Linked DNA regions of Homo sapiens: all the other regions are linked to region 1. Evidence: fine-mapped expression QTL. A gene starts in region 1. Each other region holds a variant in brackets. All regions are shown on one strand. Distances are between the middles of the regions. Region 1 holds the start of TRIP12 (thyroid hormone receptor interactor 12). Region 2 overlaps TRIP12 (thyroid hormone receptor interactor 12). Region 3 has its middle 44 kb from the start of DNER. Region 4 overlaps TRIP12 (thyroid hormone receptor interactor 12).

Region 1 (8,000 bases):
AAGTGATCTGAAGACATGAGTTGTAAGTTGTTCTTCACATCCTTTATCTTCTATGTTTTTCTGTACATAGTGGGTGCTTGCTTGATTTAAATGAGGGAAAAGTCCATGTCAAACAGGCAATTGCAAGGAATGATTTCAGTGAAGATTAAAAAACCAAGTAGGTTGCTGTTTTGACTTGAGTCCATCAAATAGCAAACAAAAAAATAAAGGAGCAACTGGTATCACATTTGCTCAAAAAGATCCCTACCCATCCACTTAAAAGGGGGGAAAGTTCCCTAGGTTCTGTAAAGAAAACAGTGACCAAGATTCAGAAGCATTATTCCCTAATTGTAATCTCTTACATTAAGTCAATTTCATTAGAGTCACAAACCAGAACAGGTACTTTGTCAATAAAAAACGTAAATGAATTTGAAGTTTCTTTAAACATATTAACAAGTTTTTTCAGTAGAATGTATGGCAAACAAGTATCTGGCATGCTGATACCAAAAAAAGAAGGTAACTTTAAAAAGACAAAAATGAGACCCAAATTCTACTACCAATTAAGCAGCAATTTCAAATTATGAAGTTCTATAACTCTGTACCTTCAACCTAGTTTACATTAATTCTCCCCTGCCCCATGGACCACCACGACTAATGAGAAGCTGTATCTTTTAAAAATGACCTCAAAACAGCTCATGTAATTTTCTAAAATTAATTTATTTAGCATGTTGTTTTTTTTCAGTCATTACATCTGTTGGGTCTCACAACCACCCAGTGAGGTAAAATAGAGATTACCCACTCCCATTTTACAGATAAAATAAATGAAGACCAGATAGGTTAAGTGACTAGCTCAAGGTCACAAAGCTACTAACTGGTAGTGTGTGAATTTCCAAGCCAGTGATGTTTTCCTTGCTAAGATGAAAACCTTAAAATAAAGCAGGATATTAAAACCTTGTCTAGATAACATAAATACAATAATCTTACAAGTTACACTGGGGCCGGCGTGGTGGCTCTCCCCTGCAATCCCAGCACTTTGGGTGACCAAGGCAGGCGGATCACCTGAGAGGTCGGGAGTTCGAGACCAGCCTGGCCAACATGGTGAAACTCTGTCTCTACTAAAAATGCAAAAATTAGCCGGGCGTGGTGGCGCGTGCCTGTAATCTCAGCTACTCAGGAGGCTGAGGCAGGAGAATCGCTTGAACCAGGAGGCAGAGGTTGCATTAAGCCTACACTGCACCACTGCACTCCAGCCTAGGCGACAGAGCAAGATTCTGCTTTAAAAAAAAAAAAAGTTACAATGGGAAAGGAATCATACATGGAATCATACATTACTACAAATTTACTTTGCCAGGTGAAAGTACTGATTTTACCGTGATCTACCTAGCATCCCATTCGTTTTTTAAATGTAACTACTTTAGTTTAGCACCTTCTGGAACCTAACTGCCAAAATTGTTCTCAAACTTTTTGAAAGTAAATGAAAAAAAAAAAGAAAAATAAAGCCTGTTCATAGACTCAAACTAAGTAGTATAAATGTCAGCTGAACAGACTTAAAAACTGCTCACACTCCAGAAAAACTGGGGATTGAATGGAAACAATGATAATCTTAATTACAGTTTTCCAATTCTTATGGATATTGGCACATTCATAGAAAGGCAGACATGTACAAAGCCCACAAACCCCAATCATATTATGTACTCTTAAGCTTAAAATAAAACTCCCTCAATCTCACAAAGATAGTCACAGCAGTTCAACATTTCTGGGGCTGAACACACAGCAGGAAGTGTCAAAAGAAAGAATTAGAAATTCTGTATACTTTAAAACTTACACTTAATATTGATCACTTTGCATGTGGTAAATATGAAAATCAGCCTCAATAAAATCCTCTACAATTTATTGTCTCTAAACCTCTGCTAATTCCATTCCTCAACCCCCCCGGGGTGTAAATGCGACACACACAGGCCTCATATACAGGCCTCTTGCCTTTTTTTCTAACACAACTAGGACCTTTGTTCTGAGCGTCGTTTTACCCCACTCAATAGCTCTTTCAACTTTCTACCCCGTATTTTTTGTTTTGTTTTTAAAGAGGAGACTCTGAGACTCAACTTGCTAGGTCTTTAAAAAATGAAATGCCAAAAATACCTAATGAGACTCTCGAGAGGAACATAAAGTTAAACACATCACTAAAGGGCCTACAAAACGGAGTAAAGCCCGGAGATCGGGTGATCTGGCAGCCCAGGCAAGATCGAGGACCGCGACTAGGAAAGGAGACAGCAGGAGAGCAGTTAGACGTCCACTTAGAACGGATTCACTGCGCTATTAACCGTACCCGCCTCCCCCCGCACCGGCCCAACCTTTACACACAAACACATTCCCTCCCCCAATTAACTAAAGAAGCAATTAAACTATGCCCACCACCAGACTCGATGCTTAGGCTAAACCTCCCCCAAAGTAAAACAGCATTATCAAAAAAACACAACATTTGTCTTAAGGGTTTGGAAGCTGCCCCTTCCGTTATCTCCTCACCACGTAAGGTAACCAATTCCCTCCTGTCCCCCACCAGGAGTTCAAAGTGTGATTTCCCCCCGATTTACATGTGTTTTTATGTTTTTCCGCATTTTTCCGTCTAGGAAATGAAGGATTTCTTATTCTGAGGAAGGGAGAGACGCCGAGGAAGACAGGATTTGAGGTTTTACTACCTTCGTTATTCGAACTCCCCTCTAACTTGTTCCTGTACTAGAAACCCACTCACTATGGAGAAGGAAGGAGAGGGGCTGAACTGATGGACAAACGTTGTAAATAATAGGTTTTATGTAATCCACATATAAATAAATTAATCGCCTGACTCGCTCTGAATGCTAATACGATTGGGGTGACAATTGGCCCACCTCCCTCCCCCAAGTCCTAGTTAAACCCACCTACCACCAATTTCCATTCTGATCTATTTAAAAGGATACTCTATTCCTCTCAGTCAAGTTTCTCGGCTTCTTTAGGCCTCCCTGCATGCCCCCCTCGTCATCATCCTCCCTCAGCCTCAACTTCCCACGGCTTAAAAAACTGCCCCGCGCAGACCCCGTCTCCGGGCTCGCCCTCCCTCAACCGTCCCTCGCCGTCCCCCTGGGCAGGAAACCCCTTACTGCGGTCTAAAGTCTCTCTGGCCTCTCCCTTCTCTGACCCTCGCTTCCCACAACTGTTGTCACTGGAGCTGCTTCCTAGTTTCCATTTCCGGGCCGTCCACGGCCCCGGAGCCTCCCCTTTCCCGATTTCCGGGCCCCTCGTCCCATTTCCGGGGAACCCTTGCCGTCTTCACACCCCCCACCTGCACTTCCGGCCCCCCACTTTCTCTCTTCCCAGACACCCTCCAAGCTCCAAAGCCCACTTCCGGCCCCCCTTGGTCCCCGCCGAGCTCCCCAACACCCGCAAGCCTTACCCCGGTTCTGTGAAGGGCCCTCCTCATTGCGGGAAGCCGGAGGAGGGACCCAGCGACCCCTACCTCCCGCCAGGCCCCGGTCCCTCCGGCCGCGGCCGCCCTCGAGCGTCTCTCCCGTCCACCCCCGGCCCGGTCCTTCCGCGGCCCCGCCGCCGCCGGCGCCGGGAGCAGGCCAAGCGGGGGCCGAATCGCGGCGATGACACAACCGGGCTTCCTGGGACTTTCTGTTCCAGCTCCTCCCCCCGCCCCCCCAACCCCTCAGCTGGCCCCCTCCCCCAAGGCTTGCCCCCGCCGCCCAGAGCTGCGCCCCAATTACCTAGTTAGGCCCCAAAGTCTCCGGTCCGGACTCGGTGGCGCGGCAGTAACTTCCACTAGCTCCCCCCACCCCCCCCAGCGGCGCGGCGGCGGCGGCTCCGGGTTCCTTCAATTATCAGCTGAGCCGCAGCACCGCGCCCGGCGTGCGCCTCCGCCCGTGCCGCCTCCCTCCCCGCCTGCTCTGACACCCTCGGGGAACTACTTTGTCCTCGGGCTCCGGTTACGGGCTCGTCCGCGGGACCGGCACCGCTGCCTACTGGCGGCCCATCACATCGCCCCTCCCTCCCACGCCTCCCGGCTCGACTCTCTCAGCAGCCTCCGATCTCCGCCCGATCCCTTCGAGGGACCAGGAAGGGGACTGTGGAGATCTACTTGGTATCCCTCCGCCGGGGTCACCCCCTCCCCTCCGTGGTAGCAGGAACTAATTCCCCCTCGGGTCACCCGGGACCTGGAGCTGGAAATTTCACGGATCAGGGTTCCCTAAGACCCTTGGAAGAGGGGACGATCGCCCCAAGTTAGAAATCCTTCTGCCAGCTCATAAGCGTGGTTCAATTTAAACTAGGGTTTTGGCCCCTTGACCCCAACCAAGCCCCGCCCCTTCCTGGTTGTCTTAGCGACGGCGGTGGCGTCCCAAGATGGCGTCGTGGCTGCCGGAGACTCTCTTTGAAACTGTAGGACAAGGCCCGCCGCCTAGCAAAGACTATTACCAGTTACTGGTCACCCGGTCTCAGGCAAGTGCGAGCCGCGGTTTACCCTCTCTCCTAACTCCCTACCTGGCCCGGTTGGGGCCCGGGACGCAGGCTGTGCTAGGCCAAGAGCAACCGTAGCCCGCCGGAAGCGCCCAGTCCCGGCTCCGCGCCGGGAGATTTTCCTCGTCACCTCGGCCTCCTCGGTCCGACGGCCCGCGTGTCCCTGCTCTCCCCGAGCCCGGCTAGTCCCTGGCAAGCCTTCTCTGCCTCCCCGCGGTGCCGCGTGCTCCTTTCCCGCCACCCCGGCTTCTTACCCGTAGAGTTTCCTCCGCGCGAAGAGGAAAACGGGCGTCTCCGGCTTGCGTGCGGCCTCACCTCAGCGTGAGAAGGAGGGAAAGAACGACTCAGCCAAGTGTCCCAAGGAGGAGCCGGCTAGGGAGGGGAAAAGGAGATTGCCTCTTTTCCAGGATAGGAATTAATCATGGAGAATTTTATAAATCTCTTTGTGGCCTTTACGCGTGCCACGGCCACATCAAAACTTAGTTATTTCTAGTAGCAACTGACGATTGGGAGCTCTTACCTTTTGGAGTCCCTTCTATCCCATTGAAAGTGTGCGGGTGGTGGTATAAAAATGTTTCAGCTGCTCTGCGCTTCAGCCCCACCCATAATGACATCTGCTCCACAACAATAAGACCGAGGATTATATTATCTCCAAAGTAACCATCGGCCTATTTTTATGCCTACTTTGGTTATTGAAGGTGGGCTTTTGGATGATTTACTGTGTCCATGAAATTCTCAACTTGAGCGGGGCCTCCATTGGGAAGACGTTTCTAATCCTGGCTGAGTTTACGCCTGTCACTGAGTTATTCATGCACCCTGCCCTTTCAATAGATACTATTCCTATAAAATGAAATTTAGAAGTTTGTATATATTTGTTTTGGTGTGCATATTGATCATTCCCTCAGTTTTTCCAGGAGCCCTTAAACAAAATAGGTAATGAGTTAATTTTTTTATATTTTTGAAAGCATCTTTTAAAATATAAATGTTAATATATATTTTTTAATTTAAGATTTAGAAATATTACAAATGTAAAATCAGCCTGTCCAAAAAAAATTTTTTTTAAAACAGTACTGCTCCTTGCGGAGCAGGGCTAATTCATAGGCAGTGGGCCCAGGGTCAGACTCAAATTTTTAATTAAACTGTTCTTAGGGGGTTTTGCACATTTAGTGATGTATGAAATACTGAAAGGTATCCTTTTCTGTACTTTTTTTTTGGTGTTGTTTTTTTTTTTTTTTTTTTTTTTTGAGACGGAGTCTCGCTCTGTCGCCAGGCTGGAGTGCAGTGGCGCGATCTCGGCTCACTGCGACCTCGTTTCACCATGTTGGCCAGGATGGTCTCGATCTCTTGATCTCGTGATCCGCCTGCCTCGGCCTCCCAAAGTGCTGGGATTACAGGCGTGAGCCACCGCGCCCGGCCTTGTACATTTTTTAAACGGATTATTGATTTTTCCATTTGTTTTAAGATTTGTTTGTTTATTTATCGAGAGGGAGTCTCCCTCTGTTGCCCAGGCTGGAGTGCAGTGGCGCGATCTCAGCTCACTGCAACCTCCGCATCTCCTGGGTTCAAGCGATTCTCCTGCCTCAGCCCCCCGAGTAACTGGGATTACAGGCGTGCGCCACCACACCCAGCTAATTTTTGTATTTTTAATAGAGACGGGGTTTCGCCATTTTGGCCAGAGTGGTCTCCAACTCCTGACCTCAGGTGATCCAGCTGCCTCGGCCTCCCAAATTGCTAGGATTATAGACTTGAGCCACCGAGCCTGGCTGGCTTTAAGATTTATGATCCTAACATTTCTTCACCTCCTAACATGAGTGGTCAAAAATATAATCTGTTCTAATCTTACATGATTTTCTATTTTTATCTACCTCAAGTAAGTTAGAATGTTTTAATTTTTACAGCCTTTAAAAATTTGTCTTTTTTTGCATTTTCTTTCCCCTGAAGGTCTGGTATTTTACAAGTATGCTTCATTTCTCTCATTTGTAAGCCTCACCAGGCTGAGTATCTTGTTACCTTTTTATTTTAGTAAATTATCCTTAGGAGTGCTCCCTGGCATTCGGCTTCCTAAAGAATAATTCTGTTGTTGGTGTTCTTCAGACTTTGCTCTCAAGTCTAACTTAGGCGCATGCCTTCCTCTAACTACTCTTTTTTTTTTTTTCTTTGAGGCAGCGTCTCGCACTGTCGCCCAGGCTGGAGTGCAGTGGCTCAATCTCAGCTCACTGCAAGCTCCGCCTCCTGGGTTCACACCATTCTCCTACCTCAGCCTCCCCAGTAGCTGGGATTACAGGCGCCCGCCACCACGCCCGGCTAATTTTTTGTATTTTTAGTTGAGATGGGGTTTCACCGTGTTAGCCAGGATGGTCTCTATCTCCTGGCATTACAGGCGTGAGCCACCGCGCCCGGCCCTAACTACTCTTTTTTAAGAAATCTTTCCCACCATCCCTTCAGTGTTCTTAATTTTTCTTTTTCTTTCTTTATTTTTATTATTTATTTATTTATTTTTTATTTTTTGCAAGTGAAAAACTCTCCTTTATCTCAGGTTCTGTCAGTTACATATATATAAAATCCTAAATTCTGATCCATTTTCTTTTTTAAGCATGCTGAATAAATCCACTACACTTCTACCAGTGAGAGTTAATCTCCAAGCTAATTAATTCACCCTCTTTTTAAAGTAAAATTTGTTGTAAAAAATGGCATGCCAAAAAAATATACTTTTCAGTCAACTGCCTTGAGAATATGCTATTTTCTAACCACAAGACAATTTTTCTGAGTCTCAGCACAGGAAACCAAACATCCAGTAAGAGGTGGCCTGACATAAATAAGTACTAAAAGACTAGCATTAAAATATGTTTTATAAGATAGATTTTTTTTCTGGAATGACTTTCTAAAATTATTTCTTGTACATTTCCTCCCCTTTCTCCTGTCTTTATTTTTTTAATGTTGTATATTATCCAAATTATGCCCCAGATTTAGATGAATCCTTCTTTCATGCTGATTCTGTTTTTTAGTCTCTTTTTCACTGCATCTTTTTCGTTGGCCTTAAATCCAAATAACTGCACATTTGACATGGATTTGAGGGCAGATATTTCTCTCATTAGTGTCATACCACCACTGACATAGTCCAGAATATAAATGTTATACATAAACATTTTCTTTGTTTATATAGTAACATTTGAAATATACTGTATGCTTATACAGGCACTTCTCTTTTACTGCTTGATACCATGTTGTTTTGGGTCTTGGGAGAGGGGTTTTATTCAAATAAATAACTTTTGGATTACAGCTTGGGGTCAGTTTAGTTTCTCGAAGCTGATCTTTATAATGATGATCTCCAGCTTTAGAAAAAATAGTGCGCTGCTTTCTAAATCAAAGATTCACTCAAGGGTTGGGCACAGTGGCTCAAACCTGTAATCCCAGAATTTTGGGAGGCTCAGGTGGGAGGATTGCTTGAACTAAGGAGTTTCAGACCAGCCTGGGCAACATAGCAAGACCCCTTCTCTTAAAAAAAAAAAAAAAAAAAAGGGGGGGCTGAG
Region 2 (8,000 bases), 72 kb before region 1:
TTCATGGAAAGATGCTGTAGACATCACTGAAATGACAAGAAAGGATTTAAAATATACATAAACTTAGTGATAAAGCAGCAGCAGCAGGGTTGGAAAAAAATTGACTCCAATTCTCAAAGAAGTTCTACTATAGATAAAATGCTATCAAACAGCATCGCATGCTATATTGAAATCTTTCGTGGAAGCAAAAGTCAATCAACGCTGCAAACTTTATCGTTTTGAAACTTCCACAATCACACCAACCTTCAGCAACCACCACCCTGATCAGTCAACATCTATCAACACTGAGGCAAGATCATCCACCAGCAAAAAGATTATGACTTGCTAAGGCTCAGATGATCATTAGCAATTTTTAGCAATAAAATATTTTTAACTAAGCCATGTACATTGTTTTTTTAGACACAATGCTATTTATTGCATGCTTACTAGATTACAGTATAGTGTAAGTACAACTTTTATGTGCACTGGGAAACAAAAAAATTCATGGAACTCACTTTACTGTGATTTTAATTTTCTTGTGGTGGCTGGGAACTGAGTGCATTAACATCTCCAAGGTATGCCCGTGTAACTATATTAATGGTTACTTTGGTAAAAATAAATTTAAAAAAATGAAAAGTAATCTATGAGGTTATAAAAAGGAATCACAGACTTTTATTTTAAAATAACTCAGTAATAATAAGACAGATTTTGCAGATAATGAGCTAAATCCCAAATGCAATTTTTAAAGCAAATTTTTATTTCCTAGTCAATGCACAGCATTTCATGCACTGATTTGTCAATATGAATTACAAATATTGGAAATGTCCAAAGGTATTCATCTAAGCAGTATTTATAATGAGGAGAAACTAGAAAGGAGCTAGATGCCCAATAACAGGGAATAGTTAAATAAAACAGTATGGTAATTAAAGTTGCAAGAAAACAGTTATTATTTAATAAGGATTTGAACATGTTGGCACTTTTACACAGCTGGTGGGAATTCATGTATTTCTAAGTGCAGTTTCAAAATATATGTCAATATCTAAAAAGAATATAACCAGTGACTTAACAAGGAAAGAGTGGTGTAAATTACAAAGCTATACTTAATTAGGGTACATCCATATCTAGCCATTACGAATGATGTAATTTATAGTTATTTGAAAGGAAACCACTCTATTACAAAGTGTTTAGACAAATAATGCACTTTTGTTTCTCCACAACTATTACCTTGCTCTGTCATTCTGAAGATGAAATTTAACGGACATCAAATGTCTATTTCAGAGCCTGGCCACATAACAGGCACTCAAAAAGTAATGCCCACTGTCATGTACAGCGAGATCATACTTTTGCATATGCCTAGCGAAGTGTCTCCCTTCTGGGTAAAGACAGAAGACTTAACACACATGCACTCACTTCTGTCTCCACATGAAATGCCACTAATACAGCATTAAAACAATCTGAGACATAAATCTACAAGGATGAGAAGAATGGAAGACACTATTGTTACAATACAATTTTAGGAGATGAAAACCAGAAATGCCGGGGCTAAATGCACTGGGAAGTCCAGAAAGCTGAAAGTAGAAAGCTGAGATTAACTACCAATCAAACTGACACCAGAGAAACCCAAAAAGGCTCAGGATCTGATGATGCCAGATACCTCTAGGGCAGTGTTGGGATTAAAACTGAAGATTGGCTGATAGGCTGTTTACAAGGCATCAGATCCTCAGATCCTCTCCCACACTTGTACAGCTGGGTAACCATTCCTCTCCTGGTTCCAGCAAAAAACAAGACCTTTATTCTTTAGGAAGTATAGAATATAGAAATTCCTGACTAAAGTACACAGTACAAATAGGTTCACTACACCAAAAATAAGAGGGAGAGAAGGGAATCGAGTACAGACATACTGTCTGACAATATACATTATCCTGCCTCCATCTGTGGCCTCTTCTCCCACTTGGCCCCCAGAACTCAGGCACTTAGGGCTTCACCTTGAGGCAGAAGTTTGAAACAATCTTCTCTGTGGAATTTTACCAGCTAAAGAAAAAAAGATCTAAAAATAATGATAAGAGGAAGTTTACAACAAAATGACCCAACCAGATCACTAAACAATGAATCTCGGTCAAACCTCCCTTATGTACTCAGAGCTTATAAATTAGACTTTTGGTCTTGAATTACACTTGAGTATGAGGAGACAACCAGGAATTACCAGAATTACCAGAATATGAGGAAAGTTCCTAACATGAAAGACAAAACCAATCCAAAATGCAGGCCCCCCCCGCCCCCCCCACACACACAAATACTTGAGATTACACAGGCAAAGAAAACTCACCATTAATGTCATCAAAAAAGAAATGCAACCATAAACCAAACGCATGATTCTATAAACAAGAAAATGAAAACAAAATCACCTCTTGGAAATAAAACATGGCAAACATGGGGGAAAAAAAGCATTTCAAGAGAAAAGTTGGAAGATGTAGAAATCTACCAGAAACAGAACGAAAAAGGAAAGCAATGTCAAACAGTAAGATCAAGACCATTTAAGAGGACAAGCACTCAATAGAAAATCAAGAAAGAGAAAACAAACAAGTACACGGTGACCAACAGTCCCAGTTTGCCTAGGACTATGCTGGTTTTAGAGCTGTAAGTCCTGAGTCTTCAGAATGCCCCAGATCCAGAGAAAGCAAAACCAGTTGGTCACCCTATCAAGGAATAAATCAGAACTAGGAATGGTGCCAGTATTGAAAGACAGAATACACTATATAATTCTTGAAAATTCTGAAGGAAAGTAATTCCCAACCCAGAACTCTATATTCACCAATCTGGCAAATAAATATCAGGGTGGTATAACATTTTCAGACATCTAAATTTTGAAAAAATAAATTGTAAATTATTAAAATCTCATACTTTTCCTTAGAGTCAAGAAGAAATATTCCACCAAAACAAGAAACCAAGATGACATGAAATCTAGAAAAGGGAAACTAAGAAGACTGAAGAAAATCCCAAGGCTGAAGCCGTATAACCAGGCATAATGAACAACCATCCAGAGGCCTCATTTCTTCAAGATGAAACAAATGCATGCAGACAGCTTGAGAAAAGATTGTGACAATTAGTAAGGAATGTGGAGTTTGAGTAAGTTCATGGGAAAGTAAGGAAAACAACAACAAAAAGGAATTTAAAATTCAGGAAAAGCAAAAATGTGTGAGAAAGGAAATGTTCCTTTACGTGGCTCAGTGTAAATAACATTTAGATGTTCACGATACAATAAACCCTGCGTGCTGATCATCACTGGGAAGACAGGAAGTATGTAACAGTATGTGTTTGGTAGGTGAATGGGGTGGGGTAAGGTTAGAATGCAAAATCTTCATTTTCCCTAAGGGGAACACAACAGGGATCAAACACTTGGGGGTGGGGGAGAAGAATCAACAAAGGGACATATAAAAGCACATAATCTAGACACTGAAACTTCAAAATAATCAGCCACAGAAAAGGGCAAAGTGGCAGAAAGACTGCTTTAAAAAAAAATAATAGATCTGGCCAGGCATAGTGGCTCATGCCTATAATCCAAGCACTTTCGGAGGCCTAGATAGGAGGATCGCTTGAGTCCAGGAGTTTGAGACGAACCTAGGCAACATAGTGAGACCTCATCTCTACAAAAAAAAAATCTTTCTAAAAAAATTAGCTGGGTATGGTGGCATGTGCCTGTGGTCCCAGCTACCCGGGATGCTGAGGTGGGAACACTGTTTGAATCTTTTGAGATCAAGGCTGCAGTAAGCTATGATTATCTTCTTGAAGAAGAAGAAAAAAAAGGTCTTATATAACTCTTTCACTTAACACTGCACATAAGTGTTGATAAATATAAAGTGAAAATTTTTGGCATAATACACACCAAAAAAAAAAAAAGAGGTAGCCCTTGGTGAATGAAATTAAAAGTGATTTTGTATTTTTCTTCTTTGTATATTTTGGTACTTTCTGGATTACTTTTAACAAACATATATCAGAATCAGAAGTGTCAAAACCATTCCAGAATACACGTAAGAATATAAAGGGCAATTACTAATGTAAATTGAGTAAAACATAATTTGGCTAATTTAATTCTTATTTTGACCTTGCATACAAAACAATATATAACATGGCCATTTATAATTTCCAAACAATGTAATACAAAGCAAAGCCTTGTTAACAAAGAAGTCAATGCTGTATTTACAATTAAATGATCTCTTTTTTAAATTTGGCCACTTCTGTT[TAA/T]AGTTTTTTTAAAGCCTCAAAAACACTAGGATTATTTGTTAGTAATTTTTCAAAGCGGTCACATATTGGAACTTCTAAACTTTTAAGTTGCTAAATTACTTTAATAGCTGCCTTGTAATATAGAAAACTGACACTCAACCCATTTCCTTTTAAGCTCCCTGCCCAACTCTTCACAGAGCTCACAGATTATCTACCTTTTTCACGCAAGTAGAGATGATCCTGCAAGATGCAAGTTGGTGAAACTGAAAGGTGACAGCGTGTGGCAGTCCTCACAGCCCTCGCTCGCTCTCGGCGCCTCCTCTGCCTGGCCTCCAACTTTGGCGGCACCTGAGGAGCCCTTCAGCCCACCGCTGCAATGTGGGAGCCCCTTTCTGGGCTGGCCAAGGCCAGAGCCCACTCCCTCAGCTTGCAGGGAGGTGTGGAGGGAGAGGCGCGAGTGGGAACGGGGGCTGCACCCGGCGCTTGCGGGCCAGCTGGAGTTCCGGGTGGGTGTGGGCTTGGCGGGCCCCACACTCGGAGGAGCAGCCGGCCCTGCCGGCCCCAGGCAATGAGGGGCTCAGCACCCGGGCCAGCGGCTGCGGAGAGTGTACTGGGTCCCCCAGCAGTGCCAGACCACCGGCGCTGCACTCGATTTCTCGCCGGGCCTTAGCTGCCTTCCCGCAGCGCAGGCCTCGGGAGAGCAGCCCACCATGGCTGAGCCTTCCCCCACCTCCGTGGGCTCCTGTGCAGCCCAAGCCTCCCCGACGAGCGCCGCCCCCTGCTCCAGGGCACCCAGTACCATCGATCACCCAAGGGCTGAGGAGTCCGAGCACATGGCGCGGGACCGGCAGGCAGCTCCACGTGCAGCCCCGGTGCAGGATCCACTGGGTGAAGCCAGCTAGGCTCCTGAGTCTGGTGGGGACGTGGAGAACCTTTATGTCTAGCTCAGGGATTGTAAATCGGCACTCTGTATCTAGCTCAAGGTTTGTAAACACACCAATCCGCACCCTGTGTCTAGCTCAGGGTTTGTGAATGCACCAATCGACACTCTCTAGCTACTCTGGTGGAGCCTTGGAGAACCTTTGTGTCAACACTCTGTATCTAGCTAATCTGGTGGGGACATGGAGAACCTTTAGTGTCTAGCTCAGGGATTGTAAATGCACCAATTAGCACCCTCTCAAAACAGACCACTCGGCTCTACCAATCAGCAGGATGTGGGTGGGGCCAGATAAGAGAATAAAAGCAGGCTGCCCGAGCCAGCAGTGGCAACCCGCTCGGGTCCCCTTCCACACTGGAAGCTTTGTTCTTTCACTCTTTGCAATAAATCTTGCTACTGCTCACTCTTTGGGTCCACACTGCTTTTATGAGCTATAACACTCACCGCGAAGATCTGCAGCTTCACTCCTGAAGCCAGCAAGACCATGAGCCCACCGGGAGGAAGGAACAACTCCAGACGTGCTGCCTTAAGAACTGTAACACTCACCGCGCAGCTTCACTCCTGAGCCAGCGAGACCATGAACCCACCAGAAGGAAGAAACTCCAAACACATCCGAACATCAGAAGGAACAAACTCCAGACGCGCCACCTTAAGAGCTGTAACACTCACCATGAGGGTCCGCGGCTTCATTCTTGAAGTCAGTGAGACCAAGAATCCACCAATTCCGGACACAAAACCATGTATCTAACTTAAATTCATCTCTCCTGCTTAACTCATTCTTATTTCCTCCCTCCGTGCTAGGGGCCCAAAGCACTAAGTCTTCCTAATCTAATCAGAATCTCTTTTCTAGAATTTGGCTTTTGCCTGGTTCTTGTCTAGGTCTGATAAAAACCACAGGCTACATGCAAAGTCACCAGGAGAATATGAAACTCAAGACAAAAGTAAGCTGTTAACTACTGCTATGTTACTAATAACGTGCACATGATGTCCACTTTAAATAATAGAGAGTAAAGTAGATCTTCAATAGAACATCTGCCTGGAAATATAACTTAAGTTTTTCTATAAACAGGTTCCATAATTACTCAGATTTTGATCACCAATTGTTTCTTATAATTCTATACCATCATCATCTACTCACTTTGAAATTATTGCAAATTTTTTTTTAAATTAGCTTTTATAAGAAGGTAGATTAGCAAAATATATTTTGAAGCCAAACTATTATAAAATTATTTAAAGTATATTAAAATATAAAAAGATTTTTGAAGCCATCTATATCATTATATTACCCTACTGGTTTTATATTTATGCTGTATAAAATTTGCAAAAATGTCTACTTACTTAGGCTAAACAAGAGACAGCTATAACTTCCTAATGTACATTAAAAATTGTTACATAACAATTTTCTTTCTGGGGTACTCAGGAGACTTTTACCAAGTAACACAGAATGACCTTTGTCTCAGAGCTGTTTTGATGAGATACAGCTGGCAAGCAGCAATGCTTCAGGAAGTCTATCACTAAAGTAGCGGTTTCACTAGATCTTCTGCCAGCCCTAGTGCCTCGCCGGGAACTTGTTCATTGGTCTATCAACAATTGACTAAGCAGCACAATAACAAGGTCTTCCTGTTTAAGCTTCCTCACTAAATGTATTATATCATTTCCTGAGTGTATTCCATGAACCACTACTGGTTCCCAAGTAATAGCTGGTCAAATTAATTTGCAAATTATTGGGTTAAGAAGTTACTGCAAGTCTTCCCACAGCTTTCAATATATTCCTGCTTATCTAGAATCTCCTTGAATAATACTTGAACATGGAGAATGGTTTTTCATAAAGCATCTTAAAAATACTGTTGTTCCTACAATTTTTAAAACATTTCCTTTACTATGAAAGCTCTCCTACTGACCAATTATGTCTTAGAATAAGTCTTTACCTAAGGAAACACATCACATTCAAATAGGTTCAATTCTTAAAAACTGGAAGAAAACAAAGGATATCCAAAATAAAATAAAAAACCTACCCAATGTGAAATTTCTCACAATGGCCTACTCTATTTTTAATATAATTTTTAGATTTTTATTCTACTAAGATTTGTATTAATCAGAAGCCCATCTCTCAACTTTCATCCACCCACTGAATCTAATTCTGGCCTCTGAATTAACGTTAAAACAAAAAACCCTGATGCATACAAAAGCCCTTTAAATACATGACCTGGCTGGGCGAGGCGGGCAGATCACCTGAGGTCAGGAGTTCGAGACCAGCCTGGCCAACATGGCAAAACCGCATCTCTACTAAAAATACAAAAATTAGCCAGGTGTGGTGGCACCTGTGAATCCCAGCTACTTGGGAGGCTGAGACACGAGAATCACTTGAATCCAGGAGGGGGAGGATGCAGTGAGCAGAGATCACACCACTGCACTCCAGACTGGGCGACAAGAATGAGACTCTGACTCCAAAAATAAATAAATAAATAAAATACATACATACATACATACATACATGACCATAACTCTCAATTCAACATTACATGGTACATTACAATATGTTGCTGCATTCTATGGCACTTCATATGTGAAAACAACTTTGAAAATCTTTCATTTATGCTTCACAAGGAGGAATCTTATTATTTTGCAAATAAGATTAGTAATAGGGTTGGTATCATAACTACAGCTGAATGATTTGCCCAACCTCGCCAAACTATGAGGAGATAATATTTTTTAAAGCAATGTACATGTATTAATATTGACATTTTTGTTTTCATTTATGTTGATGTATCCATTTATATAGGTTACATGTTTACATATAAAATTATGCAATTTTATTTGTATATATATTCCTAGTTTTGACTTTCTTGTGTAAATTTAAGGG
Region 3 (8,000 bases), 160 kb before region 1:
AGTTGCCCTAATAAATGAATTACACTCTTTCTTTGCTAGTTAATGCTCCTCTTCATTGAGAAATACTGTCAACTGCACTGGAACAAAAATACTTAGTCATAATGTCTTCCCATTATTAAAATGCAAGATGGTATAATTACATTTGCCATATTATTTCTTACACTCAGAGAGATGGATTACATATCACTAAACAGCCATGACCTTGGATGATGGGTTTGATAATTTGCTAGAATTGTTCATAGAACTCAGGGAAGCACTCTACTTATGTTTATAACTCAGGAACTGGCAGATGGAAGAGAAGCATTGAGCAAGGCTGGAGATGGAGTGGGGGAACCTGCAGTGCCCTCGATGGACCACCACCCTGCCAGCGTTTGGATGTGTTCACCAACCTGAAAATCCATCAAATCTTGTTCAAAAGTCTTCATAGAGTCCAAGCGCTAGCTCTTCCTCCCTTTCCTGGAGGTTGGCGGGCAAGGTTGAAAGTTCCAGCACTCTAACTAACCACTGTGTCATCCTAGTGACCAGCCCCATCCTGAAGCTATCTAGGGACCTCATCCTGAATTACTTCATTAGCATAAACTTAAGTATGATCAAAAGGGGGTTTTAGGCCCTGGGGCGGTGGCTCACGCCTGTAATCCCAGCACTGTGGGAGGGCGAGGGGAGTGGATCATGAGATCAAGAGATCAAGACCATCCTGGCCAACATGGTGAACCCCAGCTCTACTAAAAATACAAAAATTAGCTGGGCGTGGTGGTGCACACCTGTAGGCCCAGCTACTTAGGAGGCTGAGGCAGGAGAATCGCTTTAACCTGGGAGGCGGAGGTTGCAGTGAGATCGCACCACTGTACTCCAGCCTGGCAACAGAGCAAGACTCTGTATCAAAAAAAAAAAAAAAAAAAAAAGTTGGGGGGATTATTTTATTTTTGAGATGGAGCCTTGCTCTGTCACCCAGGCTGAAGTGCAGTGGCACCATCTTGGCTCACTGCAACCTCTGCCTCCTGGGTTTAAGTGATTCTCCTGCCTCAGCCTCGTGAGTAGCTGGGATTACAGGCACCCACCACCATGCCAGGCTAATTTTTGTACTTTTAGTAGAGACGGGATTTCACTGTGTTGGCCAGGCTGGTCTCAAACTTCTGACCTCAGGTGATCCGCCTGCCACAGCCTCCCAAAGTGCTAGGATTACAGGTGTGAGCCCCCATGCCTGGCCAAAAGTGGGTTTTACCACAACATATAGTCAGAAGTACAGTTGACACTGTAACTAATTAATTATACATACACATATATTTTATTTGTATTTTTAGCTCAACTCTATGGAAGCAAATATATACGTATATTTGTAACTGAAATAAAAGTTCCACAAAGTAATACTTACCCATAGTACCTCCAATATACGCTGATATTTTTCTATTCTATACTCTATTTCATTTTTTACATTTTCAATTAAGGCGCTACATTTCTAGGTGCTACATTTGTGGAATTTAATTTTTTCTTCTTGTTATTTTTTCAGTATTTCCCACAGCAAAACATTTTGTAGTAAGACGAGAAATAAAAATCACTTAAAGATCATTTTCTTTCAAGTGGAACTGGGGCTCAAAAAATATTGACCAATGGGTGCAGTGGCTCACGCCTATAATCCCAGCACTTTGGGAGGCCGAGGCAGGAGAATCACTTGAGGCCAGATGTTCAAGACCAGCCTGGCTAACATGGTGAAAACATCTCTATTAAAAAATACAAAAATTAGCCAGGCATGGTGGTGCACACCTGTAATCCAAGCTACTCGGGATGCTGAAGCGGGAGGATCACTTGAACCCAGGAGGCAGAGGTTGCAGTGGGCCAAGATCATGCCACTGCACTCCAGCCTGGGTGACAGAGCAAGACCCTGTCTAAAATATAATATATATATATAGAGAGAGAAAGTATAGAGTATATATATATACTATATATATATATAGAGAGAGAGAGAGAGAAGCCAAGAGGGAGAAAAATCAGGCTGGGCCCTCAGTTGCATTTCTAACTTCTCTCTGCTGGGTTTGAGGCATGTTGGAGTCTAAAGCAGACACCTTCGTCTCTGCTCGTGTCTTTGTGGCTCCCACACAGCCGCCAGGGGTCCTGCACCTCCAGGTATTTGCAGCATCCTCATGTAGTCCCCTCCTACCCTGTGCCAGGATTAGTCTCTGGGACCAAAAGAATATAACACAAGTGATGAAATGCCACTTCCGTCATTAGGTTATAAGACTGTAGCTTCTGTCTTGTGTGTTCTCTCTCTCTCTTTCTCCCTCTCTCTCTCTCTCTCTCAGATCGCTTACTCTGGGGGAAGCAAGCCATTGTGTCAGGATACTCAAGCAGCCCATGGAGAAAGAGGTATCCAGTGAGGAGCCGAAGTCTCCAGCCAACAGTCACCGAGGAACTGAGGCCTCCTGCCAATAGCCATATGAATAGCTTCGAAGAGGATCCTTCAGCTTCCAAAAACTACAGCCCCTGTGGACTTATGAGAGGCTCTGAACCTGACAATCTGGTTAAGGCATTTCCCGATTCCTGACCATTGGAATGAGTAAGATAATAATGTTTGTGGTTTCAGACTGTTTGTTGTTACACAGCAGTGCCTAACGATTACACCCACCGTCCCAATGAATGGTCACTGGAGATCACTGAGCTGGCCCTGCAACCCCCGCCTAGGAGAGAGAAGAGAAAGTGTTTTTTATTTATTATTTTTTATATTTATTTATTTATTTATTTATTTATTTATTTATTTATTTTGAAACAGAGTCTTGCTCTGTCAGCCCGGCTGGAGTGCGGTGGCATAATCTCAGCTCATTGCAACCTCCGCCTCCCAGGTTCAAGCCATTCTCCTGTCTCAGCCTCTCAAGTAGCTGGGATTACAGGTGCATGCCATGACACCGGCTAATTTTTGTATTTTTAGTAGAGACAGGGTTTTGCCGTGTTGGCCGGGCCGCTCTCAAACTCCTGACCTCAACTGATCTGCCCACTTCGGCCTCCCAAAGTGCTGGGACTACAGGCATGAGGCACCGGGCCCAGCCAGAAAGTGGTTTTGTTGTTGTAGTTGTTGACTAACAGGGAGAAAGTTGATTGGAAGCCCATGGAGCAGGACAGTAGAAAATTACAGAACAAAAGTTTTATGGCAAATTTTGTCTACAAAACATCAAGTGATTGTGTTCAAAGCAGAAAGTGTGACAATC[A/G]AAGGCAAAGGCCATCTCTACAGCTCCTGTTCCGTTCATCCCATCATCAGTGAGGGTGAGCAAGAAACAAACTCACTCACCAAAAGGAACCCCAAAATAAGCTGCACTTATTAAACTGCTTCTTTAGTCTGACAAAGTGAAAAACTGGTTCCCACCTGGTTTCTTGCTTCCTGAACAAATATGGTGGGTGATCACTTCTGGGAAGTATGGGAAGAGGCAATTCTCTAGACCCGTCTCTTCAAAGATGAATCTTTTAGACTTTAGAAAAGATAACATTGGGACTCTCAACTCACAGGAATCATGGACGAAAATCTCTGGTTTTATGGAAAGGCCACTGGCTGGAAATCAGAAAACCTACATTCTACATCCAGGTGGAAACCTGGGTGATCTTGGGAAGGTCTCAACCTCTCTGAGCTATTATTTCCTCAACTAGGTATGAAGGGGTCTGATAAGCAGTACCTTAAATATCTTTCCAGCATTAGGATTACTTAAGGTTATATATCTCACTCCATTGTTAGCATAACAAACTATGTAATTTTAGGTGAAATATATCAACTGTATTATTTTTTAAATAGATGGCTGTATTGCCTTTTTAATGGACGTCCTTCCAGCTCCAAGAATCTGTACACCTCTACGTTTTGGGGTATAAAGAATCTGACCAATGGCAGTGGTTAGTAACATCCCAGTCCTACCCAGTCTCACATCCTAACTTGACAAATGGTCATTGAACAAGTTGGTGGAAACCAAGAAAACCCACTAGTACTTAACATTAAGATGGATTTAAAAGATCAAGAAATAAAACAAAAATAACATTTATTTCCTGAGTTGTTTTAATATCTGGTATTAATAGTGACACAAGTATGCAACTCAATATATATTTCAAAAGAAACCTGCACTTTTATTTTGGCATTAAAACTGTGTAGTTAACAATTACTTTATTTTGTTCAACTTGATTAGAATAGGATCTAATGCACACTCTTCAATCGAGTTGATCTGAAAAAGATAATCTAAGAACTGCAATAGAGGTTAGAAACTTAGAATTTTAGAACCCAAAGGGGACTTAATCGGTCTGCTTCCATAATTTTACAGATAAAAAATACCCAGTGAAAGTTACTTGACTTACCCAAGGTCAAATTCAAATAAGAGCCTCAGTTGTCTGAATTCAGAGCCCAGCCATCTTTCTGAAACACAACATAGCAGTAAAATAGAAACCTTCATAAAAAAACTTTATAAGTAGCAGGAAAGAGTTTAGTATTGAAATGTCAGTTTTTACCAATGTGTACAAAATTCAGAATTGAAATAAGCAGTACTACTGAGTTTTTTTTTTTTAAATCATCATAAAAAACCTAAAAACATAATTTAAATTAGAGCCGGAGCCTGTGAAAGTATTGGCAATGTAAAAAGTTGCTCATCTTTCCTGGGCTGTCTGTTCTAAATGGACTTTGAAAAAAAAAAAAAAAAGTATCACATTCTCTACTCATAATCTTCCAACTGATGGAACATTAGTTTGTTTTTAAAATGGACTTCTCCTTCTCCTGTAACTTTTTTTTGTGGTGATAGAAACATTGAGGTTTTCTTTTTCATTCATCATTTTTATTACATTTTTAACTTTGACCTGTGCTAATATACCTACTAACTCCTAGCACATCCTAACTTTGTCATGAATTTGAGTTTACTTCTGGAATGACATCTGATTTCTTTTAGTTTTATCTACATTGTCCAAGTGAACTGTTCACCAAAAACTAAATAGCACCATGTCAACAGGACATTTTGGCGAAGAACAAAGTGTCACCTATGATTACAGGCCAGTTTATACTGCTTCTGGTGGTGATGGTGATGTTAGGAGGTAGGTTTTCATACTCAGTGTAATTCTGTTGATTACCCCCAGCTTTCCTCTGGATTTTTCCAAATCCACATAATACTTAACTGTATACATAGTTGTTTCAATTTCATTTTCCTTTCTCCCTGGATTCTAAAGTCCTGAAGTAAAAGAGCACAGATTATGCAAACAACCTGACTGACAAAGAGGAAAGAACGCAACAGTACAGAAATGCTCATTCATTCCTTCAGTGACTATGTGAGTCTAGGCCAGGCATTATGCCAGGCACGAGATTTAAGAAAAACAACAACCTGATACCATGGCATCTCCTGCAGATGATAAAATGGGAAGACTGAACACAGTACACTAAAATATTTGTAGTACACTTAGTTGACCATGAGATCCAAACAAAAAACCTCCATGTAAAGGGAAAACAATAACTAACAAAAAGCATCTATTTCTTAATTCATCCATTTCACGATGAATGTCAAGTCGATCCGTGACTAAAGAGATTCGTCATCCCATCTGTCATAGTTTGAATGAGTCCTCCAAAAGTTCATGTGTTGGAAACTTGGTTGCCATTGTGGTGATGTGAAGAGGTGAGGCCTTTTGGAGGTGATTGGGTCATAAGGGCTTCACCCTCATGAAAAAATTAATGCCAATACCTTGAGAGTGGGTTAGCTTTTGCGTGTTTGGCCCCTTTTTCCTCTGTCTTGCATGCTTGCTTGCCATGTGATGCCTTCCACCATGGGATGACTTCACCAGATGCCAGTGCCATGCTCCTGGACTTCCCAGCCTCCAGAACTGTGATCCAAATAAATCTTTCTTTATAAATTATCCCGTCTTTGGTATTCTGTCATAATGCCAGAAATTGGACTGAGACACCACTCCTGCCCACTCCCATGGGTGTTAAGTGGGGAGGGAAGTTGGTATGTTGGAGAGGAAGACCACAAAACTTGCAGCTTTTTCTTTCTAAACACCAAAACACCATTGAATGCTTTGGGAGGAAATGGATTTCATATTCTCACCATCCATCCAGAATGCTATCAGAACAATGGAAGCAAATAAATCTATTACAACACTAAATTGTCCTTGGAGGAAAGAAAACTTACTTTGCCTAGTCTATTAGCCTATAATAATTAAAGACCAACTTTTTTTTTATTTAGTTCTAGAAAGTTGAAAAACCTGGCTTGAATACTTAACATTCTCATTAGAACTATTAAGCTTTTTCTCAATGAATTTAGTTATTAAGCCTGTTTTTATTGATCACAGGGGCAACTACAATGACATTTTCTGAATTTAAAGTCCTTTTAAAATTAGTTACATTTTAAACAAGCGGTTCTCATTTATGTAGGAGGCCAGAGTGGTAAGACAACGTCCTCCTAATCGAAGGAAGCTGGGTGAGAGGGATGTTGTGTGTGTGAGGAGTAGGGGAGGACAGGATTGTGGCTTTTTCTGACTAAAAATCGTCACTTTTACATTCCTCTTCTTATCCCTCTCTTGTGCCTACTTATAAATTCTGCAAAGGTTTGATTTGTCACTAACTATAATTATTGGCTGAATATAAAATCTAAATGCTTTCCAAAAGCTGCAACACACAATTACTGTTTTCACTCAGTAGATAACGCGTTGATATTTGAACTATCTGGAAGTAGTAAGGGGCATTTTGAGTTGTCATAATGACTGGAAGGTGCTATTGACATTTAGAAGCAAAGGGCTTTGCTGTAACCCTCTACCAGGAAGAACTGCATCAAGCAAAATGCCTATACCTGTTAAGAAATCCTGGGAGACGTTTTAAAGAATCATACAAGATTTGAAGAATGTTACCATTAAAACATAAAGCTGGAGATCACTGAACTGGCTTCACAAAAACACAGAGAGTAAGGTTCAGTGGGGTTAGCTTCCCCTAGCTGGGAAGACTGGAGCCAGGACTACATCAGGCCTTCTGACTCTGTCTGGGGCTCTTTCTGCTCCACCAAGTTTATTTTCACAAAGCCCTTTACACAGGTCTGTGTGAGTTATCATGATGCCAGGGACTCTGCCTGGATGCCAAGGGCTGCATGTTCTATTCTAAGTTTTGGAACACACTTTGGGAATAGGACTGACTAGGATGAATGAGTTTTAACAAATGTCCAAATTCCATCAAGAAACTGCAAGCTGAGCCCATCGGGTTTTCTTTACATTACTGTTAACTTTACAGATGATCATTTCAACTAACAGCAGCTGCCCCGTATAACTCTACAATTGCCCACGTTAACATTAACCAGTGTTTAGACCCCTTGCAATCTGGACTTGTGTTTTCTGCCCTAATATCCCTTAGTACAATCTTCTTGATAATAAATTGTTAATAGTGTCCCTAATTAACATTTTGATGTATCATAGCCACATAGAAGATACCAAAATCGATTCCTGAAACCTCAATTCCCAATGAGAGTGCAAGAATCCAGCATGTGTGCCTGGGCCTCAAAGCCACAATGGGACATTTGAGCTGGCTATGGGGCAGTTCTGGGACCTGCTTCCTTGCAATTTCTTGCATAGGAAGGACAGCGTTATTCCAGGCATCAGCACGACCCTTCTTCCTGCCCTTCTCACATCAAGTGAGAGGAGGAGCAACATAGGAGACCAGCTAATCTTTTTTTTTTTTTTTTTGAGACGGAGTCTCGCTGTCGCCCAGGCTGGAGTGCAGTGGCGCGATCTCGACTCACTGCAGGCTCCGGCCCCCGGGGTTCACGCCATTCTCCTGCCTCAGCCTCCCGCGTAGCTGGGACTACAGGCGACCGCCACCTCGCCCGGCTAATTTTTTGTATTTTTAGTAGAGACGGGGTTTCACTGTGCCAGCCAGGATGGTCTCGATCTCCTGACCTCGTGATCCACCCGCCTCGGCCTCCCAAAGTGCTGGGATTACAGGCGTGAGCCACCGCGTCCGGCCCCAGCTAATGTTGAGGTTACTAACCTGGCTCAAAAAAAAAGAGGAAGGAATGACA
Region 4 (8,000 bases), 100 kb before region 1:
TATCTGCATCTGGGTGGCAGGTGAAGAAATTGTTCTATCCTTTATCAAACTCTGCCAGAGCTGAGCCATCCAAATAAGAACAAGCAGAATAAGGATTGTCACCTTGTATTTCACAGGCTTTTCTTTACTCAGCTCTCTCACCAAAACTCAAGCTATCTCCATAATTTGATAATCTCATCAAATGGGACAATATGATGTATAAATCATAACTTCATTTTCTGTCAGCTTTACTGGATATACAAAAAAGATTTACATGGCATTTAACTGTAATTTCCAAAATAAAACATACCACAAATGTAAATGTTTATGTTTGTCTTTTGGTAGTGTTTGATTTAGACTCAAATTTTAATCTTAAATTATACCTAATTTCTTTAATTTTGGACAAAGAAAATTATCAATCCACTATTTAAATGCTGTATTGTGCTAAGGTGCCTACATTTGATAATGGCAATTTTTCTTCCTATTGTTTTCATATTTAAAAGTTTAAGGAATCAAGCTGTTAATAAATCTATCATATCAAAATATCAACTCACAACTGTGTTGAAAAGGCATTAAAAAGATTTTTTAAAGTCTTTTATTTCTTTTTCTGAGACAAGAGTTTTGCTCCTGTTGCCCAGGCTGGAGTGCAGTGGCGCGATCTTGGCTCACTGCAAGAGATTAGAGCGATTCTCTGCCTTCCAGGTTCAAGTGACTGTCCTGCCTCAGCCTCCTGAGTAGCTGAGATCTACAGGCACCTGCAACCATGCCCGGCTAATTTTTGTATTTTTAGTAGAGATGGGGTTTCACCATGTTGGCCAGCCTGGTCTCCAACTCCTGACCTCAGAAGATCCACCTACCTCGGTCTCCCAAAGTATTGGGATTACAGGCGTCAGACATTGCCACTGGCCAACATAAAAGCTTTTAAACTGAAAGGATCCACATATATACCATATGGCTTGAGTAGTATTCCCATGTAGACACGTACTAAATATGAAACCTTTCTGGCCCCCCGACACAACCCAGAGTGAGCTTCCCTGGCCTATTGCTCCGTGGATCACCAGGCTAAAAGAAAAAGCATGTGCATTTTACATGGCAGGAGTCAAGGTTACTGATGAGGTGAACAACTTAAAACCAGTCATTTAAGTATCAAGAAGTGGGTGACTATTCATCAAAAAAATGATTTAGAAAATTTGCTAACTCATTAGCAATTGCTCACAGTATCTGTAAGCATGAAATACAAGCACCAAGTCATATACTCCTCTCTTAACTCTATCATGTTTTAAAAATTAATAATGACAATAATCATACATTCAGTACAAAATCGGCAGATTTCAGAGGACAAATGAGGTAAAAACGAGGGAAAAACATTATGCTTACCAAAGCTGGAACAACACTCTTGACAGGAAACCCTCCCAGTGTCTCCTCATTTCCCATGACCAGTAACTGACACATCTCAATAACTGCCTGAAGCTGTTGACTTTCATCACTGGCTTGCAATCCTTGTAGTAGCTGCTGGGCCTTAGAACCTTTAGAGAAAAAAATAATTATTATCTTTAAACATTTAAGAAAATTATTACTAGGTATAAGGTGTGACTCGAAATGTAATTGGTTGCTTATCTTCTTTGCATCCTAATGAAAGACTAGGTCTATACCAGGGTTAAGGCTCACTGCTAATACATTGAAGGAAGAATTAAATTAGTTGGATCTACTCTGCCTTAACATGCTTTCACAGTTATATACTTCTGTCTTCTTAATTGAAAACTTGACTGGTTTTACAGCAAAAACAAAAAATAATATCCCTAAGACCAGTATGAACTGATAGCTTTAACATTATCTGTTTTAAGGAAATATCAATTGTGAGCAAAGGCTTGCTACAATAATAAAAACCTGTTAAACAATGATGCCCATACTTCAAAGGAAATGTTATACACCTCTAAATATCTGTTCCAGAATAAATAGAATCCAATTAACAATGAAAGGGCAAGGAAATAAAAAACACAACAACGTATCTAACAAAAAAGAGAATGGAAAGAATATTCTGTAAAAATAAAAACCACACACACACACACACACACACACACACACACACACACACACACAATTATAAACCCTTGCATCCTCTTTCATTTCCTGCACAGATGATGGCTATTAGAATGTTCCTACTTTTAAGACTTAATTCCACTACTCCAACAATTGAAAAATGTGAATACTCAACAACCACAGAGAAGTACGTTGTCATTAAGCTAAACAATACACTCCAAAATAAAGTCTAGAGAGGCTGGGTGCAGTGGCTCATGCCTGTAATCCAAGCACTTTGGGAGGCCAAGGCAAGTGGATCACTTGAGGTCAGGAGTTTGAGACCAACCTGGCCAACATGGCGAAACCGCATCTCCACTAAAAATACAAAAATTAGCCGAGCGCAGTGGTGTGCACCTGTAGTCCCAGATACGCAGGAGGCTGAGGCAGGAGAACTGCTTGAACCTGAGAGGCAGAGGTTGCAGTGAGCCGAGATCATGTCACTGCACTCCAGACTGGGCCACAGACTGAGACTTCATCTCAAAATTAATTAATTAATTTTAAAAAATAAAGTCTATGAATGTGTTTCATTTTTCATGGACACTTTCCTACTTGAAACCACAATTAATTAAATTAACACTTAACCAATCTTATATGATGTTACTTTTAAAGCTCCTTCACTTCTTACACCTTTTCAAGTTATTCTTCGCAAATTGGACTTTTCCAGTCCTATATCATTGAGTACTGAAATGTGTAGAAATGGGATATATGTCTGGAAACTGTCAATGAATGTGAAATTCTCAAAAAACTGAACCTAATAATTTCAACTGAGCTTCAGTGATATTCCTGGGGGCGTACACCTCTCACAGGGGCACATAGCAATCAATGGAAGTTGTTTTATGGTTTAAGATTGTGGCTACTGCATTCCATAGCTATCGCTGCCTACCTACCTTTACCATAATTAAAAATCCATCCAAAAATACACCAGAAGAAAAGTTCAGGGAAATACAATTTAACAATTTTAAACTAAATAATACCAATTTTAGTGACAGCAGGTTTATCACTTCTGTGTTGACATAATGTGGAAGGAAAAACAAAATGATAGAAAAATAGTGAAAACAAATGAATCCTCCACTGATTCTAACATGACTTTAAAAGGATTAAACAGTTCATATCAAGTATGGCCTAAGAGCACAACCCCCTAAAAGAAAGAACCAACATGTATGCAACTAGATGGAGGTCTTATAACCATTGGGGTTGGCAACTCTTAAGGACATGGATCTTATACAGCATAATCAAAATTATCATCAATACCAATAAAACATCTGGGATGTTCCTAAAAATAACTTACACTAAACTGAAGATGACAACAAAAAGCCAAAACCATAACCAAAACCTGATTTATCCTCTGATTTATGAGGAGAAACCAACTCCTAGAGCAGTGGATTTTGAATTTAGAATCATTTTATACTCTTAAAAACTACTGAGGTACCACAAAGCACTTTTGTTTATGTGGGTTATATTTATTGATAATTTTAAAATATGTTAATTGAAATACAAAAATTTTAAATATTTGCCAGTTAACTCATTATATATTAATATAAATAATTTTGATTTTAAAAGACCTTATTTTCCAAAACAAGTGGTGCGGTCTCAGCTCACTGCAACCTCTGCCTTCTGGGTTCCAGCGATTCTCCTGCCTCAGCCTCCCAAGTAGCTGGGATTACAGGCACAAGCCAACACACGTGGCTAATTTTTCTGTATTTTTAGTAGAGATGGGTTTCACCATGTTGGCCAGGCTGGTAGTGAACTCCTGACCTCAGGTGATCTGCCCACCTCGGCCTCCCAAAGTGCTGGGATTACAGACATGAGCCACCGCGCCTGGCCCAAACACTGTATTTCCAATCTGAATTTGGTTGCTAATGTAGAACTCATGGATACAGAAAGCTAACTGTATTTATTTTTAAAATCCATGAATAAGTGGACCCAGCACAGTTCAAACTCATATTGTTCAAGAGTCAACTGTATATAGAAAAGATTGGCCTTATTTTGTTCCAAAGAGTATTAAAAAGACATGTCTTGGGAGTAAAGACCTAATTAAATTAACTTTGGTTCAGTAAGGGCATCTTAGATAAAAACTGAATTATATTTATTAGGAGTATGTGGCAGTGAAAAACACAATGATTGCTAGTACCGTTTAGTGCCACTGCTTTGATGCTTAAGATCCCACCAGTTTTACCCATTACAGCTTTTGCACCATCAGTTCAAACATCAATGAAGTAGAAAAGGAAAAATCTTGGTAACTATTATTAGTTTTGACCTTATAGAACTCATTTAAGGGTCTCTCTCAGAAACCAAGAGTCCACAGATCACACTTTGAGAACTGTTATCACAGATCAGGGTTTGGCAGGAAAACGTTCTCTTTCAAGGGAGAGATAGCAATTATTTTGGGCTTTACAGGCATATGGTCTCTACTGCAACTACTCAACTCTAGCACTGTAGCTGGAAAGTATCCATAGAAAGTAAGACTAATACAAACAAATGAACATGACTGTATACCAATA[A/T]AACATTATGGACACTGAAATTTGATCTGCATTTAATTTTCACATCACAAAATATTCTCTTTTAAAATGTTTTCAGCCACGTAAAATATAAAACCCATTCTTAAGAGTACACAGGTAGTATAAAAACAAGCAGGAGCGTGGATTTGGCCCTTGGGCAGTAGTTTGCTAATTTCTGATAGGAATGGAAACAGAAGCCTATAGTGCTTTAGGGAGTCACAAGAAGCTAATGTGTTGAAATCAACTGGCCCACAGACAGGTACCGAGTTCTGGAACTGTGAAAACTGATAGAGGGGCCAGATACCCTGGCTCACACCTGTAATCCCAGCACTTTGGGAGGCCAAGATGGGCGGATCACCTGAGGTCAGGAGTTTGAGAACAGCCTGGCCAGCATGGTGAAACGCTGTTTCTACTAAAAATACAAAAATTAGCCGGGCGCGGTGGTGTGCACCTGCAGTCCCAGATACGTGGGAGGCTGAAGCACAAGAATCACTTGAACTCGGGAGGCAGAGGTTGCAGTGAACCAAGTTCACGTCGCTGCACTCCAGCATGAGCGACAAGAGCGAGACTCCGTCTCAAAACAAACAAACAAACAAACAAAAAACTGATAGAGGGGAGAGTAAGAAGTTTTGATAAGATAGAAGAAAATCTTCTGCAGTCTCATGGTGCTCAGAAGCCAACATCTCAACAGAGAGAGTAGGCGTCAAAGACACACAGCTGGTACCTGAACTCCCAAGATAATCTGCCACATTTTGAGACTGCTCAACTATTCAAATCTGAACTCCCAAGATACTTGCCACATTTTGAGACTGCTCAACTATTCAAATCTGAGGAGACATAGATTTGCAAAGTTGTCAATCAAAATTCTAGGAGGGCCACAACAAAGAAAACAGTGACTAGCAAGAGGTGAAATGAGTCATACCAAAATTACCAGAGGTGAAATTAGTCATACCAAAATTACAACTCTGGTTAAAACAAGCTCAAGTCCTGATTAAAGTTAGAGTGATCAGCTCTGGACCCTTTATTTTTGGTAGAGAAAAAAGAAAGCTAGCACTAGCAGAAAATATCATTTTGGGCCACTTTAGTTCTTTTATACAAAACGTCTGTCACATAACCAAACAATTACTAGACTTATAAAGAGGCAGGAATATGGGACTGAGAATTAAGTGGGGGAAAAAAAGACAATAAAAGCAGACCAATACTTCTAGAATGAAAAGACAAATGTTTTATAAAGTATTAAAAATACAAGCAAAGATGGACAAAATTGATTAAGAATATACACATTTTCAACAGATGATTGGCATCTATAAAGAGAATCAAAAAACTATTCAGAACTGAAAAACGTATCTGAAATTAAGAACTCATTGACGGGTTTAACAAAAGATTGAAGACAGCAGAAAAAAGAACTAGTGAATTTAAAAACTGATCAATAGGAAGTTTTCCAACTAGGCAAAGAGAAAAAATTCTGAAAACAAAACCAAAAATAAAACAGAGCCAGAGAGACATGCTGGATGCAGTGTAAAGTTTAAATGTGTATGATCCTGATACTCTCCAAAAGGAAAGGAAGGAGAAAATCTGATGATGAGATAAGAGAAACAATACTAGAAGAAATAATGACCAAGAATTTTCTAAAACTGAAGATATCAACTCACATATTCAAAAGTTCAGTGAAGGGCAAGCACATTAAGGGTCAAGGAAACATCACTTAAACCCTATATAGTCAAGCTATTAAAAAATAAGTGGTTTTTACATTTTTTTTGAGACAGGGTCCCATGCTGGATTGCAGTAGCCCGATCTCGGCTAACTGCAACCTCTGCTTCCTAGGCTTGGCCAGGCATGGTGGCTCACGCCTGTAGTCCCAGCATTTTGAGAGGCCGAGGTGGGGTGGATCAGGAGGTCAGGAAATCGAGACCATCCTGGCTAACACGGTGAAACCCTATCTCTACCAAAAATAAAAAAAAAATTAGCCAGGTGTGGTGGCAGGCACCTGTAGTCCCAGCTACTCGGGAGGTTGACGCAGAAGAATGGCGTGAACCCGGGAGGCGGAGCTTGCAGTGAGCTGAGATCGCGCCACTGCACTCCAACCTGGGCAACAGAGGAGACTCTGTCTCAAAAAAAAAAAACAACAACAACAACAAAAAATAAGTGCAAATAAAGCACATGCCTGTAACCCCAGCAACTTAGAAACTGAAGCGGGAGGATCACTTGAGGCCAAGGGTCTGCGACTAGCCTGCGCAACATGGCGAGATGGCATCTCATTAATTCATTCATAAATTAATAAAGACACATCAAGGATTTCTCAAACACAGAAAGAAATCATTATTAATAGTCTGACACTATGTTAAAAAAAAAAGTTCTTTAGGCTAGAAGGAAACAATCCTTTAAAGAAAAAAGAAACTGCAAGAAGAAACTAAGAGCACTGCAAAGGTTAAGCATGTTGGCAAACATAAAAGAAAACAGATATTCTAAGTAACGTCCTATCAAGTTTATAACACGTATATATAGGTAAAACAAATTAAATACAACAAACATAAAGGAGGGCAGGAGGTAAAAAGTGTTAATAAACTGTTGTAAGGTTCTTGTACTGTTTGAGATATGATAAAGTATTAATTTAAGGTATGCTATAATAAACCAATGAATTTGCATTATACTCTCTAGGGTACCACTAAAAGAAATATACGAAGATACATATAACTAAAAAAAGTTAATATTAGAGAAACAATGAATTTTGGTAAAAATTCAAAAGCTTGATACCATACTACTGTCATTCACACATGACTGGTGGAAACGCAAAATGGTGCAACTCCAAATGGGGGGGAGTTTGCAACACCTACAAAAACATCGTATGCATTTACACCCATTTAAGCAGCAAACCTGCTTCTAGAAATCTATCCAAAAGATAATGCTTGAAAAAATACGAAAGCTACATTTCACTGAAGCCTTGCCAATAGAAAAAAAAACTGAAAACTCAAATGTCCAACAGGGGACTATATAAATAAACTATGTATACCCACACAATGGAGTAACGTGGCAGCTTTACAAAGGCCTATCAGTTGAACATGCAACATGCATGTGGCAGCTATGAAGAGTGAACACGAAGAGTGAACACCAAAATATAGTGTCAAAAGCAAAGTAAAGTGTATAAAGTTTGCTACTCTTAACTGAGAAAGGCATTCCCATGGACAATATAGATATTTATGGATTTTTTAAAGTAAATAACAGAAGGACAAGGCATAAAATTTAAAAGATTATTTATGTGAGAGGAAGAAGCAGGGAAAATGGAAAGCAAAAGAAGATAAGATTTTTCTAAATATATGTTGTTTGTAGATTTGACTTTTAGAACTATGTAAATATTACATAATTATAAAAGCAAAACATAAATTTTAAAAAGCAGTCCCTAAAAATCAGAAGCAAAATGAAGTAAATGAAACAATCCAACTTGGT

The links. PIP is the estimated chance that this variant, and not a neighbour inherited with it, causes the effect.
Region 2: its variant is the best candidate, but not a certain one, in a credible set for the expression of TRIP12 in blood mononuclear cells (TOPMed, PIP 0.54).
Region 3: its variant is the best candidate, but not a certain one, in a credible set for the expression of TRIP12 in whole blood (INTERVAL, PIP 0.62).
Region 4: its variant is the best candidate, but not a certain one, in a credible set for the expression of TRIP12 in whole blood (INTERVAL, PIP 0.88).

The regions. Positions count from the first base shown.
Region 1 is chr2:229,918,158-229,926,157 of GRCh38, forward strand. It overlaps TRIP12 (thyroid hormone receptor interactor 12), which reads right to left and starts at 3,852. Exons shown (of 42, transcript NM_001348323.3): 1 at 3,723-3,852. FBXO36 (F-box protein 36) reads left to right here and starts at 4,346. Exons shown (of 4, transcript NM_174899.5): 1 at 4,346-4,452. The coding sequence starts at 4,357. RefSeq lists enhancers at 2,170-2,269, 2,907-3,407, 3,408-3,908, 4,565-4,624 and a silencer at 3,345-3,734.
Region 2 is chr2:229,846,073-229,854,072 of GRCh38, forward strand. All of the region lies in intron 4 of TRIP12 (thyroid hormone receptor interactor 12), which reads right to left. Among named protein-coding and RNA genes, the nearest start is that of TRIP12, 72 kb to the right of the region's middle. RefSeq lists enhancers at 4,084-4,763, 4,764-5,442. The variant TAA/T (reference allele first, on the strand shown) is at 4,220.
Region 3 is chr2:229,754,909-229,762,908 of GRCh38, forward strand. No RefSeq gene overlaps it. Among named protein-coding and RNA genes, the nearest start is that of DNER, 44 kb to the left of the region's middle. The variant A/G (reference allele first, on the strand shown) is at 3,198.
Region 4 is chr2:229,817,008-229,825,007 of GRCh38, forward strand. It overlaps TRIP12 (thyroid hormone receptor interactor 12), which reads right to left. Exons shown (of 42, transcript NM_001348323.3): 9 at 1,357-1,505. Among named protein-coding and RNA genes, the nearest start is that of TRIP12, 100 kb to the right of the region's middle. RefSeq lists a silencer at 5,222-5,422. The variant A/T (reference allele first, on the strand shown) is at 4,560.